2 linked regions of the Homo sapiens genome follow. The protein of the gene in region 1 interacts with the protein of each later gene in a pairwise test. Each region holds a gene or a part of one and is shown on either strand. Other genes may lie near its edges.

Evidence for each region. Proteins that work in one complex are often made in the same cells at the same time.
Region 2: the proteins of MAPK9 (region 1) and LNX2 interact in binary tests that used the Homo sapiens proteins (3 or more experiments, as listed by UniProt).

Annotation. Positions count from the first base shown.
Region 1 is NC_000005.10:180,232,923-180,240,089, reverse strand, and holds the end of MAPK9 (mitogen-activated protein kinase 9), read left to right. Parts: intron 1-102; coding exon 103-166; intron 167-1,686; coding exon 1,687-1,758; intron 1,759-3,558; coding exon of another isoform or gene 3,559-3,563; coding exon 3,564-3,706; 3' UTR 3,707-6,947; downstream 6,948-7,167. UniProt on the Homo sapiens protein: Serine/threonine-protein kinase involved in various processes such as cell proliferation, differentiation, migration, transformation and programmed cell death.
Region 2 is NC_000013.11:27,575,530-27,582,529, reverse strand, and holds part of LNX2 (ligand of Numb protein X 2), read left to right. Parts: intron 1-726; 5' UTR 727-826; coding exon 827-1,233; intron 1,234-7,000.

The sequences.
Region 1 (7,167 bases):
ATCATAAATAGACTAGAAGTCTTCCAAGCAATTTTACCTTTTTTAGTGCCTCATTTTTTTTTGAGGCATTACTGTTGACTTTACATATGATTTAATTTTTAGCCACCACCTCAAATTTATGATGCCCAGTTGGAAGAAAGAGAACATGCAATTGAAGAATGGAAAGGTAAAGATGGAGCTTATTTTGATCCTTCCTTTTGACATTTCTTCCAATCCTGTAGAGCAGAGGCTTTTCATTTTGTGACATTTCCCTTCAGGAAGGGGCAAGAAACCCTGCGACCCACTTAGCCTCTTTCTCCCCAGTTTCCAGTAGAAAATGAACTTGAAGAGAACAGAGTTAGAGAGGAACATTTATGAATTTCTTATCATTTGCTTCAAGAGGGAAAAATAATATTTTTTTCATGGCTTTTCACATATTGATTTATAAACTGAGCTTAGTAATTGTATCATACTTATATTGATTGATATGTTTTTAAGCCATGTAGTTGTACATATGTTTTAAAATCTAGTTTGGGGGAAATTGCAGATTGAAAATATGCAAATAGGTATTATTACCACTATAAGATTAACCAAACAACCCACAACAAACTATACCTGTAATGAAGAGGTTGAACTAACAATTTTTCATTAAGAAGCAGGATCAGTAGTAACTGAGAACCACAGTCAGAGTCAGTCAACACTGATGAGGGTCATGCCCCAGGGCCATCCTGGGGTGTGGGAGTGCCGGTTACCTGTGTGTGCCCGTGCTCAGCAGTGCATGCACACAGCGTGCTCACTGGCCTCAGTCAATGCTCACTGGCCTCAGCGAATGCTTGCAACGTGCTAATGTTGGTTTATGAATACTGACATTTTAGGAATCCCTCATCACTTACTTCGTAGGTAATTAGTTTTTCTTACAGATGAAAGTTGAGGAAAACCGAAGTTGAAATTAAGAAAAGACTTAGGCCTGTGGATTCATTTCTGGCCAGTGTGGGGGGCTCCTAGCCCACATGTGGGTGCTGGTTACCTTTGGAGAACCCCAAGTAACCACATAGAGAAACATATTCAAATGGGTGTGAGAATATCCAATCCCCTACAGTGTTCTGTGGGAGCCACTCCACTTCATAAAGCCCCCTTATGGATCCAGAACCACCCTACATGTTTTGCTGCCTTACTAGTTGCATTGAAAAAGATGTAATGTAGTCCAGGCGCAGTGGCTCACACCTGTAATCCCAGGACTTTGGGAGGCCAAGTGGGGCAGATGGCTTGAGGCCAGGAATTCAAGACAAGCCTAGCCAACATAGCGAAACCCTGTCTCTACAAAAACTACAAAAGTTAGCCAGGCATGGTGGTGAACACCTGTAATCCCAGCAATTTGGATGGCTGAGGCATGAGAATCACTTGAATCCAGGAGGTGGAGGTTTCAGTGAGTCAAGACCATGCCACTGTACTCCAGCCTGGATGACAGCATGAGACTGTCTCAAAAAAAAAAAAAAAAAAAAGAAGAAGAAGAAAAGAAAAGATATAATGTATCAAAATATGAATATTTTGGTCCAGGTAGACTATATTACTGAATTGACTCTGTCTTACAATTAAAAATAACAAATCGCAATGCCTTTGTTCCAGTTGATTTGGAAGCAGAGTTTAGAGATACAGTGAAACTGTTTAGAAACTGATTAAGCATTTTAACTTGTATTTTTATTAAAGAGCTAATTTACAAAGAAGTCATGGATTGGGAAGAAAGAAGCAAGAATGGTGTTGTAAAAGATCAGCCTTCAGGTTAGTGATTGCTTTAATTGATTGTATGATATTTTTCTTTCCCTATTCAACTTTTTTTTTTTGAGACAGAGTTTCGTTCTGTCGCCCAGGCTGGAGAGCAGCGGCGCGATCTCTGCTCACTGCAACCTCCGCCTCCTGGGTTCAAGCAATTCTCCTGCCTCAGCCTCCCGAGTAGCTGGGACTACAGGCACGCGCCACCATGCCCTGCTAATTTTTGTATTTTTAGTAGAGACGGGGTTTCACCATATTGGCCAAGCTGGTCTCGATCTCCTGACCTTGTGATCTGCCCGCCTCAGCCTCCCAAAGTGGTGGGATTACAGGCACGCACCACCATGCCTGGCTAATTTTTGTATTTTTAGTAGAGACGGGGTTTCAGCATATTGGCCAAGCTGGTCTCGATCTCCTGACCTCGTGATCCACCCGCCTCAGCCTCCCAAAGTGGTGGGGTTACAGGCGTGAGCCACCGCACCTGGCGTCTTTCCCGATTCAACTTTTATAAATGGCAGCAACATGTGAAATGCCAGCCTGGCTAGCATCAGATTTAAAAACCGCTGTATGAATAGCCAGCCTTTTTGGCTTGTCATAGTGGTGGTGGTGGTGGATGACATTTTACTGATGTGCCAGGCACTGAACTTTGTTATAAGCATTTCTCTTTCATCTTTGCAATAACTGCTGTCACCTCCATTTACAGATGAAGAAATTGAATTTAAAGCCTTTTCAATGTTGATAACCCTTTGTACTGGTCCCACCCAAAATGCCAATCTAAGTAAAATGGAGTATGGTATTCTTTTTGAGAAAATTGTTGATATCATTTTCCCATTTTTCTGCTTGATCTACTGATCTTCATAGTGGTGGAAGCCTCTAATGACCAGGTAGTTGTATGATCATGAGACTCTGATATGAGTCGTGTTCACTTACGTCTGAAGGATTCTTCCTGTTTACTAAATGAAACGCTCACGTTATATCATTGTCTCTCTCCCACTCCCACTGGGAAGCATGCACACACATGTGTGCGGATGTGCAGAGAGCACAGCTTACTTTTTATTCTTGAATTTTATGTTCAACATGACGTATGTGTCAAGCATCTAGAGATTATATAACTTCAGCAAGAACTTAGGTGCTTGTTAACTGAGCACACACGTATGACTGCAGACGTCGATCTCAGAGAGTGCATGTTGTGTTTTTATTCAAACCAGACTAAAATATGGATAGTAGGAAGTAGGATAGTTTCATTTGCTTTAAAAGATTAAAATGTCAGTTTTCTGGAGTTATAAAACCATAAAATATACAAGGCCACTAATTTTTTTCCTTTTTCTGGTATATAGTCTTTATTTATTGCAAAAGATTTCTTTGAAAGTTGATGCTTTTTTTCCTGTAGATTTAGTGTTTATGTTATAAATTGTTACAATTCAAGTGTCTGGTGACACTGGAATCCTAGTCAGGCTTAAGCTTTTGTGATACTGCATTTTCAGATAAATATAGCTGTGTCCTTTTGATGTCTGCTTGAAAGCAGCAGGTATTTTTTAAGTAGCTAACATGATTATACATGGCCACATATATGTTTAGCTACTGAGAAAAAAAGAAGAATCTTGCAAGGAAAGACATAGGAATATGGGACTCTTGGCCCAAAGAAAGACTCAAGGAAAAGTTCAGAAAGTCCAGCTGACTGACTTCTTGTCTATACTCATAGTTAGGATTGGGAAACTGCAAAAGGACAGAGCCGAGAAATGGCCTGCAGTCTCGCTGCCTGGATTTGCAGCAATGTCGTGCCTCAGATTTTATTATATTTGGTTTTCTTAGCACAGATGCAGCAGTAAGTAGCAACGCCACTCCTTCTCAGTCTTCATCGATCAATGACATTTCATCCATGTCCACTGAGCAGACGCTGGCCTCAGACACAGACAGCAGTCTTGATGCCTCGACGGGACCCCTTGAAGGCTGTCGATGATAGGTTAGAAATAGCAAACCTGTCAGCATTGAAGGAACTCTCACCTCCGTGGGCCTGAAATGCTTGGGAGTTGATGGAACCAAATAGAAAAACTCCATGTTCTGCATGTAAGAAACACAATGCCTTGCCCTACTCAGACCTGATAGGATTGCCTGCTTAGATGATAAAATGAGGCAGAATATGTCTGAAGAAAAAAATTGCAAGCCACACTTCTAGAGATTTTGTTCAAGATCATTTCAGGTGAGCAGTTAGAGTAGGTGAATTTGTTTCAAATTGTACTAGTGACAGTTTCTCATCATCTGTAACTGTTGAGATGTATGTGCATGTGACCACAAATGCTTGCTTGGACTTGCCCATCTAGCACTTTGGAAATCAGTATTTAAATGCCAAATAATCTTCCAGGTAGTGCTGCTTCTGAAGTTATCTCTTAATCCTCTTAAGTAATTTGGTGTCTGTCCAGAAAAAGTCGATTTATGTGTATTAATTGGCCATCATGATGTTATCATATCTTATTCCCTTTTATGCTATGATTTATTCTATCTTTTGTATTTCAGAAGACATATAATTAAATCTATTTAATAAATAAAAATATATAGCTTTTCTTAGATTTGTGATGTTTGGGGCTGAGAATTATCACGGCTAAAACCAAGACACTTATGTGGACATCTTGTTTTCTTTAAACTGTCTTGTCTGGGATGATTGTACATTCAGCTTTACTGCACGATACAATTTTAAGTTTTGCTTAGTGCTGCTTGAAATCCTAGCTACCTTATCTCTTTTCTTCTTGGTCTTCTAGACTTCTTATGAATTTAAAATGCTACCTAGAACTTCACCTTCTTTATTAGGTGCGTAACACTCCATCTTAATTAAATATGATGGCAGATAGGTTCCTGCATCCATGGCCTAACGTTGGAGTGGAATTTTACAAAATGCTCACTAGAGATCACTGCAGTCATTTCCTAAGTGCTTCCTTTGCCACAGACTGGCCTGGGTCCTTTATTTACCTTCCCTCATTCACTTTCCCTCGGCCAATACCACGTTCTTGATTTTCTTTCTTCACTGGAAGAAAGCAGATAAACTCCTCTTTGGTCTGTTTTCAGAGGCCAGGCTGATTCAGATGCCTGTTGCTATTGTTGCTCTCCATTGTTGGGAGGCATTCCTTTTCACAAGAATGTTCTGGGAAACTCTTCAGAGGACGTGAAGGAAATACCCTGAAGAGTCATGATTAACTATTGACTATTTTCTGATTTAAAACTGCTCACCTGAAATTGATACTTTTAGACTTTACGATCAGTAAATTATTCAGAATTCATGAAGATGCTGAGTATGTTAAGTGTCACTGCAGGAACGGAGCTGTGGTGATCACGTTTTGCCTGCCTGTGCCCATGTCTCTTCCCTTGAGCTTATTCTGTTGCTGATTCATATCTTGTGTTCAATTATTTTGGAAGCTTTTCAGTCGACATTCTGTAGAGTGTGTTCTGAGGAGGAACTGTGATAAGAAAGTTTATTATAAATATTATGTAAAATATATGGCTCTCTCTGCACCAGTTATATCTTATTGGTTGGTCATATCACTGGAAACTGGAACCTTTGATTAGCAAAATTAATATTGAAATAAGAAATAGTTCTTTTATATTGTGTCATTTGGACACTTTCAAGTACAAAATGGTAATAATAACTTGGATTGAGGCGGAAACACCTATTTTATGGCTATCTATCTAAACATCTTAAAATGGCCTTCTCTGTAATACACTTTCTTTTAAAAGACTTCACTAAATCTATCTTTAAAAGGAAAAACAAAAGGGAGAGGTTGAAAATGCGCGAGCTGCCCTGCACTGTGTGATGCTCCCTCCCCGGGAGACGTGGACGGGGGACGAGGCACCCGCAGACGCCCTTCTGCTCACTCGCTCCTCTGTGCATTCAGCGAGCCACTTGCCACAGATGGAGCCCGTGACGGTGTGGAGGGTTTCCTGGAAAGGCCATCTTCCACCAGGTAGAGGCGAGCGTGCCTAGGACAGGCCACAGGGCTCCACAGAAATACCTCACCCCAGCTTCAGGGTTCTCTCTCCTGAGCCTAGATTTGCCAGGGTCTTGGTGCCACGCAAATGGTTTCAAACTGATCTCTATGGATAAATGCTGATGTTGGTTAAAGAACTGAAAAATGTGCTCAACTGTTTCATCTTTTCTATTTTATTTTTGTAATTTATATTGTACACAACCCAGGAAGTAACTATTTTGGACATGTATTTTTATAAACCAGGTAATTTACTATTATCCTGGAATTTAGACTAGGTTTGTTTCATTTGTTGACTTAGTTTCCAGCCAAGAAGGAAACGACTGTCTCCCCCATGTCCAGGTCTCAGTTTCAAGGGCAGAGTCCAGAGAGCAGACAGAGTTCTGTGAGAGCAGGAGAGCAGTCTGGAAACCCTGGCTGTGCATACCGTGTCAGCCGTGGGCCTGGAGATGGGAGCAGGTGAGACGCAGAGCCCCAGTACTGAGAGGAGGAAGCCCTCTTACAGGGCCCCTTGCCCACCCCAAGTCCGTGTCTGAAACACGGAGCGGGTGCTGCTTCAACCCGCATTTAATGCTGTGTAAGTAGCGATAACCACGTACGAGTCTGTCTGGTTGATTTCTAATGTGACTCCTCTGGTATTTCCTCCTGGTAATAAATACAAGTGTGACCTTTCAGATTGCATATCTCAAAAGTAACATTGCTAATGTTTTATAATAAAATATATTATGTGTGTTTTGGTTGGTGAAAATAATACAGACTACATTTTAAAAGATAAATGTATAGCATGTCCAATTTTTGTGTGTTTTTACATGGCAATTAGATATTTCTCCATCACCATCTCTGATGACAGATTTAACATGAACACAGATAGATGATAAAGTGTCATGCTTTTGATCAATATTAGCAAGAGGTTTCACACTGAGAGGCAGAAACATTGCTGTTTGTTCTCTTATTGAAAATATTCTGCAAATTCCTAAATCTGTGTTTTCAAAACTAATGGCAGTAAGTTTTGACTTCACCAATATGCAGGTCCAATTCAGAGTATTGGTGTAATTGTTTTCTCATGAGGCGTGGCCAGGAGAATTCACCAGTCAGCCTTAGTCATGTTACTTAACGTCATTCATGGTGCTTGTGGCTTTGTGCCTGGGATGAGCCAAGTTCATCTGACGTCTGTGTTTGAAGCACTTCAGGCTGTTTAGTACTTAATACCACAGGAGTGGAAGGACACTCAGTGGCTCACTTTCTTTTCTCTGCTTAAAAGGACTAGAAGCATTCCAGAGAGATGAGTACCAGCTGTGTGTGTGTGTGTGTGTGTGTGTGTGTGTGTGTGTTTAAGACGGAGTCTCACTCTGTCTCCCAGGCTGGAGTGCAGTGGCACTATCTCGGCTCACTGCAAGCTCCGCCTCCCGGGTTCACGCCATTCTCCTGCCTCAGCCTCCGGAGTAGC
Region 2 (7,000 bases), on another chromosome or scaffold:
GATGACATGCAAATGTATTATATACCTCAAACAGCATTACTATTAGCACAATTAATTGGCTTTAAAACTACCATTGAACAGTGACATATTTGGGGATTTCAGTCAGTAAAACAAATCGATTGTTTCTTATGTCACACTATATAATCTATGGTGTCTTTACCTTTCATCAAAAGTTGTTTTTTTATCAAGAACTTGACAGTGGGAGCCAGGCACGGTGGCTCACACCTGTAATCCTAGCACTTTGGGAGGGCTGATTGCTTGAGTCCAGGAGTTCAAGACCACCCTGGGCTTTCCACCATGGAAACCCTGTCTCTACAAAAAAATACAAAAAAATTAACAGGACATGGTGGCGTGCACCTGTAGTACCAGCTACTCGGGAGGCTGAGATGGGAGAGTCACTTGAGCCTGGAAGGCAGAGGTTGCAGTGAGCTGAGATTGCACCACTGCACTCCAGCCTGGGTGACAGAGCAAGACCCTGACTCAAAAAGCAAATAAATAAAAAAATCAAAAGAGACAATTAAAACTTATAATAAAAAAGAACTTGGCAGTGTAAGTCCTTCTTAGCCAACTAGAAAATTAATTTCTTTTTTTATGACTAATTTATTACCTGATTCAACCTTTAATTTTTTACTAAAAAAAGCTAACCAGTAATATTACATTGATACTTTTAACCTATCTTGATTGATATTAATTACCTTTTTTAATGTGTTTGTTTTGCTTATCTAGAAAAACACACCTTGACTTTAGTCAGATACATCACTGTCTGTTAAAGGAAACCAAGCGTGAAGTGGAAGTCTAACACATGAGGATACAGAATTGATTCAAAATGGGAACAACAAGTGATGAGATGGTGTCTGTGGAACAGACCTCCTCCTCTTCTCTAAACCCCCTGTGTTTTGAATGTGGCCAACAGCACTGGACAAGAGAAAACCATTTGTACAATTACCAGAATGAAGTGGATGATGACCTAGTCTGCCATATTTGCCTTCAACCTCTGCTGCAGCCACTAGACACACCCTGTGGACATACATTCTGCTACAAGTGCCTCAGAAACTTTTTACAAGAGAAAGATTTCTGTCCGTTGGACCGGAAAAGACTTCATTTTAAGTTGTGCAAGAAGTCTAGTATTCTAGTTCATAAACTCCTAGACAAATTATTAGTTTTATGTCCATTTTCTTCAGTGTGCAAAGATGTAATGCAACGTTGTGATCTGGAGGCACATCTCAAAAACAGGTAAGCAAAAAATATAAAAGAAGTAACTCCAGATTTTGGAAAAAGGTGGTTCAAATGAACATAAAAACTTGATTAAAACAAAACAAACCAGAGCACTAGTAAGTAAATGGGTGAATCAAGTACAGAAGAGATACAATAAATAAGTTGTATGGAACAGTATTTAACATTATTTATCAAAAACATGAATACAAAAACTACAGTGAGGAAGTACTGTTTTATACCTGTTAATATTTCTGCTGCTGTAATATGAAACTGATATATTCAAATAGATGACAGGATATTATGATAGATTCTTTCTATAAAGCAGTTTGGCAGTTTGTTTTTAAAAACTATATGAATGTAAATCTCCTTTTATCTAGTTTATTATCCTAAGGAAATAATCTAAAAGCAGGAAAAATTGTATGTAAATATGTTCAGTGCAACATTGTGCATAGTTTGGTAAATTGGAATCAGTTATTTAAAAGTAGGGAAGGGTTAAAAAATACTATGCACATAAACTCAGTGGGATATTATGCAGCCAATAAAAACGATAATTTTGTTGCAATATGGAAATAAATACATTATTTTATTTGCTAAGATCTTGTAAAGATTCTGGGTTCAGGGACTAGACTGAACAAGAATTAGGAGTTGGAAAACTAAATATTTAGTGGGGATTTCTGTTCTCATAAAAGCTTTTTAAAAGGTTAAGTAATTTATTTAGCTGATGAGTTTTATAATTTGATTTTGCTAAAAGACTTGATCTTTAACTTAGGAAGAGTTACAGTATACGTCATTTGTGTAGAATCACATAAAATGGCAGAAATAAATACTGGTTTCTAATTTCAAGTTAAGCCAGTTTTACAGTATAAATCTGCAGTAATCTCGATTGCTGTGAAAAACAATGCATACTACATCATACTGGACTTAGATGTAAGAGTGTAAGTCTGATATAGAATGGCTTGCTATTATACTCACACATAAAATCATAGACTTGAAGGAGATTATCTAATCCCCCTCATTTTATGAATAAGGAGACTGAGTCACAAAAATTTAGTTAATGCTGTAGTTAGACTCAAGCTTTACTGTTCTTGTTTACTATTCTAATAAACCATGTTGACTCTATCGTAGGTCAAGTCATGTTCTCTGCTGCTATGTAGCAAAAGTTTCATTCATGTGCACATGAAATACACATTCATTTTGTATCAATATATTGTTGATATTTATTTCTAAACATCAGAGTTAAGACATGAGAAACAATGAAAAAAACAAAGATGTTATTAAAATGTTGGAAACATTTAGATTTATAGAATGCTTAACTCTAAACTGTGTTGTCTAGAACTAGGAGGTAAGATAGAGTAGGATAGACAGACTTTTGAAAATGCGTGTAATAATGTAGCATTGCATTTTTTTATATCTTCTGTAACCAGCAAGCATAGAATCTGAACATGATGGCAGAGGCCTCCTGGAAACTGACACTGGTCTTTTGAATATACTAGTCTGAGTCAGGACTAGTTATGGCTGAAGAATATTTCAGGCTGCTTCTTTCAGTAGAACTGTTCTTTTCAGTGTATAGGCTTCTTTTCTAAACATCAGTTATGAGATGTTAGAGGAACTGAATGAAATGTCAGTTCAGTTATTTATGATTTTGAGAGCTGAAAGATAACAGTTTCACAGATTTTCAGGAATATTCCTTTAACATGCATTCAAGAATTTAATTTGCAGTTGAACTATTACTAGTGTTTCTTATCAAACCATTTATAATGAGAATGTAAAAAACCTTGGTAATTGCAAACTGCCTTTTCATTTACATGTTGGTAAAGGCTTATCCAGTTGAAGGTTTCATTTTCCAGCTGTGCTTATTAGTATTGAAGTAACCAATTTTATCATTTCTAAAGTATCTTAGGCCTGTAACATGAAAGATACAGTGAAAAGATGGATGATTGGAAAAGGTGGTGATTTGCCTGATACAGACAGCTAAGAGTGATTACTGAGTATATAAATGTAAAAAAATTATAAAATGTAATATGATTTTTATATGCCATTTGAACAGATAGTGATGAACAGCCTGACCTTTCTCTGTTCTCTTAAATAAGAACATTGAAATTCAGGTAGAAATGTATATTATACAACATTCAACCCTAAATAATATAGTTCATTTGTTTATTCAGCAAATATTGATTATCTGCTATGTGCCAGATACTTTTCTAGGTGTTAGGTAGTCTCTGCAAGTTAGAATCTAATGCCGGGTTGTAGATTCCTTTAGAAACAGAACCATGTCTTTATAGTCTTTCAGTTTATTTGCCCAAAGTTGACAGTCATCTCATGTTAGTCCAATTAAATTGTTGATCTGTGTTTCAGTTATTCATTGCTGAGAAACTAACCACCCCAGACACACTGACATAAAACAACAAGCATTTGTTGATTCTGTGAGTCAGGATGCAGACAGGATGAAACAGGGATGGCTTGTCTCTGCTATCTTTATGTGTGCCACAGCTGGGAAGGAGCTGAAAGCCAGGGACTGCAACAGTTGTAACTGGAGAGTCTACTTCCAAGATGGTTTCTTCATTCACATTTCTGACACCTTGATGGGAATGACTAGGTGCGTGGGACTTGTCAGCTGGAGAGGCTACAGGTAGCCTTCCCAGCATGACAGCCTCAGGGTATTTAAAGTTCTTACATAAGTGGTTCAGTGTCTAGTAGGCTGCATGGCCTCATATGATCTAGCCTTGAAGTTGCCTGGCATCCCTTCTCTGTTGGAAGCAGTCATAAACCCACCCATATCCAAGGAAAAGGGGACATAGGTTTCACCTTGTGATGGGAAGTCAAAAAAATTTGCAGCCATGTTCTAAAACCAACATAAACTAGCAAGAAGAATGATGTTATGCGGCGCAGAATATGATTACTACGACTGTTTGCGGCTTCTCGGTATACAAATCTCACTTGTTTGTTAGAAATTGGTAAGTCTGTAAGTTTCATTGAAATTCATAAGATTTTAGCATCAGCAACAAAGAGTCATTGTATAAAAGTTGCATGGCTGTCATGTGCCTTTGCTCTTGAGCTTTTAGGGTTTACAGGAATCTCTTAATTATTGGTAGAAATAGAGCATTAGCAGTAGTTTGCATAAATTTGATAATTTCACATTTAAGATCACCTTCCTATTTGAATGAAATCCTGCCCTTAACAAATGTGTTTTGATTTGAGAAGAGCAAACATTTTTCTCCTACAGATAAAATATTTATGAAAGATGAACATGTTTAAATAAAACTGCTATTTTTAACTGATTATGTATTAGTGAAATGAAGAATTTTAAGAGACATGGACAGTCTCTATCTTTGAACAGAGAAATAAAGCCTTTGAAAAATATTCTACATGTTGTACTAAATATGTAACATTTTGATTGTTTCTTTGAAATTCTGCCAAGCAACATCAGCTATATAGCATTCCTCCTACGCTCTACCACTCATCTCCAACCCACCCTTAACGATTTAACATTTAAGCCTTTGGTAATTGTAAGTGCTAGTTGTTGTTGTTGTTTTTAAATTGTGTGTTTGTGCCCTAGTTTATGGCAAGGTTCAGAATTACTTTTCCTCTTAAAAATTACAGTTTAATGCCATTATAAAAAGTTTACAATAGAAAACCTTTAAAGAAGCCTCTTTCCTTGCTGAGAACTTTTCTTGTTCATGAGATGGTTATGAAACCTTAAGTTCAAGTTTGTTCAGCCTGTGCCACATGCAGCCCAGGAAGGCTTTTGGGATTATTTTTTTTTTAAGCTTATCAGCTATCATTGATGTTAGTGTATTTTATGTGTGGACCAAGACAATTATTCTTCTTCCCGTGTGGCCCAGGGAAGCCAAAAGATTGGACAACCCTGCTTTAGATGATGGTCCAGGAAAAACTAAATAGAAAAAAAAGGGATCAGGATAGGCTGAGGCATGATTGCACTTTTAAATTCACACTTTAACTTGGAGGGAAGTTTGTGTTTAGCACATTCTTATCAGTATTGTTTTTTCATGTATGGTGTGAAAAAGCAGATATATGTATTTGCAAATCATGTGTATTCTAGTATCCAGAATATATAAAGAACTCTTAGAAATGAAAAGATAAATCCAATTTTAAATGGGCAAAGGATTTGAATAGATAGTTCTCCAAAGATACTCAAGTGGCCAGTAAGCACATGACATGCTCAACATCATTAGTTCATTTTTATATTGGATTATTTGTCTTTTTGCTAAGTTGTAAGAATTTTCTATGTATTCTGGATACTAGACCCTTACCAGATATATGATTTGCATATATTTTCTCCCATTCTGTCAGTTGTCTTTTCACTTTCCTACATCCTTTAAAGAACAAATATCTAATTTTTATGAAGTTCATTGTTGTTTGCTTATGCTTTTGGTGTCATATCTAAGAAAACATTGCCCAATTCAAGGTCACAAAAATTTACATGTACGTTTTCTTCTAAGAGTTTTCTAGTTTTCTCTCTTATAATTCAGTTTTTGATCCATTTGGAATTAATTGCAATGAGAAATCATAATGTGTATTGTTCAATCCTTTAAATTTTATTGAGGCCTTTCTTTTCTTTTTTTTTTTCTGGAGATAGCATCTCGCTCTGTCACCCAGGCTAGAGTGAAGCAGTGCAATCTTGGCTCACTGCAGCCTCCACCTGCTGGGTTCAAGTGACTCTTGTGCCTCAGCATCCGAGTAGCTGGGACTACAGGCGCACTCCACCATGCCCAACTAATTTTTTTTTTTTTTGTGCTTTTAGTAGAGACGGGGTCTTGCCATATTGCACCAGGCTTGTCTCAAACTCCTGAGCTCAGGTGATCCTCCACCTAGGTCTCCCGAAGAGCTAGGATTACAGGCGTGAGCCACCATGCCCAGCCTTGAGGCCTTTTTTAAAATGGCCTAGCACATGGCCTGTCTTGGAAAATGTCCTGTGTGTACTTGGGAATAATGTAAATTCTGCTGTTAATGGATGGAGTGCTCCATATGTCTATTGGGTCTAATTGGTCTATAGTGTTAAAGGGTCTATTTTCTGGTTCCATGTCTAGTTGTTCTGTTAGTATTGAAAGTCGAGTATCAAAAGCTTTATTGTTGATTTGTCTATTTCTCTCTTTGTCATTTTTTACTTACGTATTTTGGGGCCATTGTTTGGTACAATTTCTGTTTATAATTGTCATATCTTGTTATGTTTTTCTGTCTTTTGCTTTATTTATGTCTTTGAATCTGAAGTGTGTCTGTTGTAGACAGTTGGATTATGTTTCTTGTAGCCCATTCTGCCAGTCACTGACTTTTTATTGGGATGTTTCATTCATGTAATTTAATGTAATTACTGATAAGGTAGGCTTTACATTTGCCATTTTGCTGTTTGTTTCTATATGTCTTATTTCTTTTTTCCTCCATTTCTTCCATTTGTGTTAAATATTTTTAATATGCTATTTTAATTCCCGTGTCATTTCTCTTAATTAAAATTATTTTCTTAGTGGTTACCCTGGGGCTTACAATTAACATCCTAGTTTATAGCAGTCTATTTTAAATGAATACCAGCTTCATTTTCACTAATGAATTAGTCAGGGATCTGTAAGGAAATAGAACCAATATATGAGGAGTTGGCTGACATGATTAAGGAGTCTGAAAAATTACACGTTCTGCTCTCTGCACGCTGGCAACCCAGGGAAGTCAGTAGCATAATTCAGACCTTCTCAGTCAGAAGGTCTGAGAACTAGGAGAGCCAGTGATCCCAGTCTGAGGGCAGGAGATGAGATGTCACAACTCAAGCAGTAAGGCA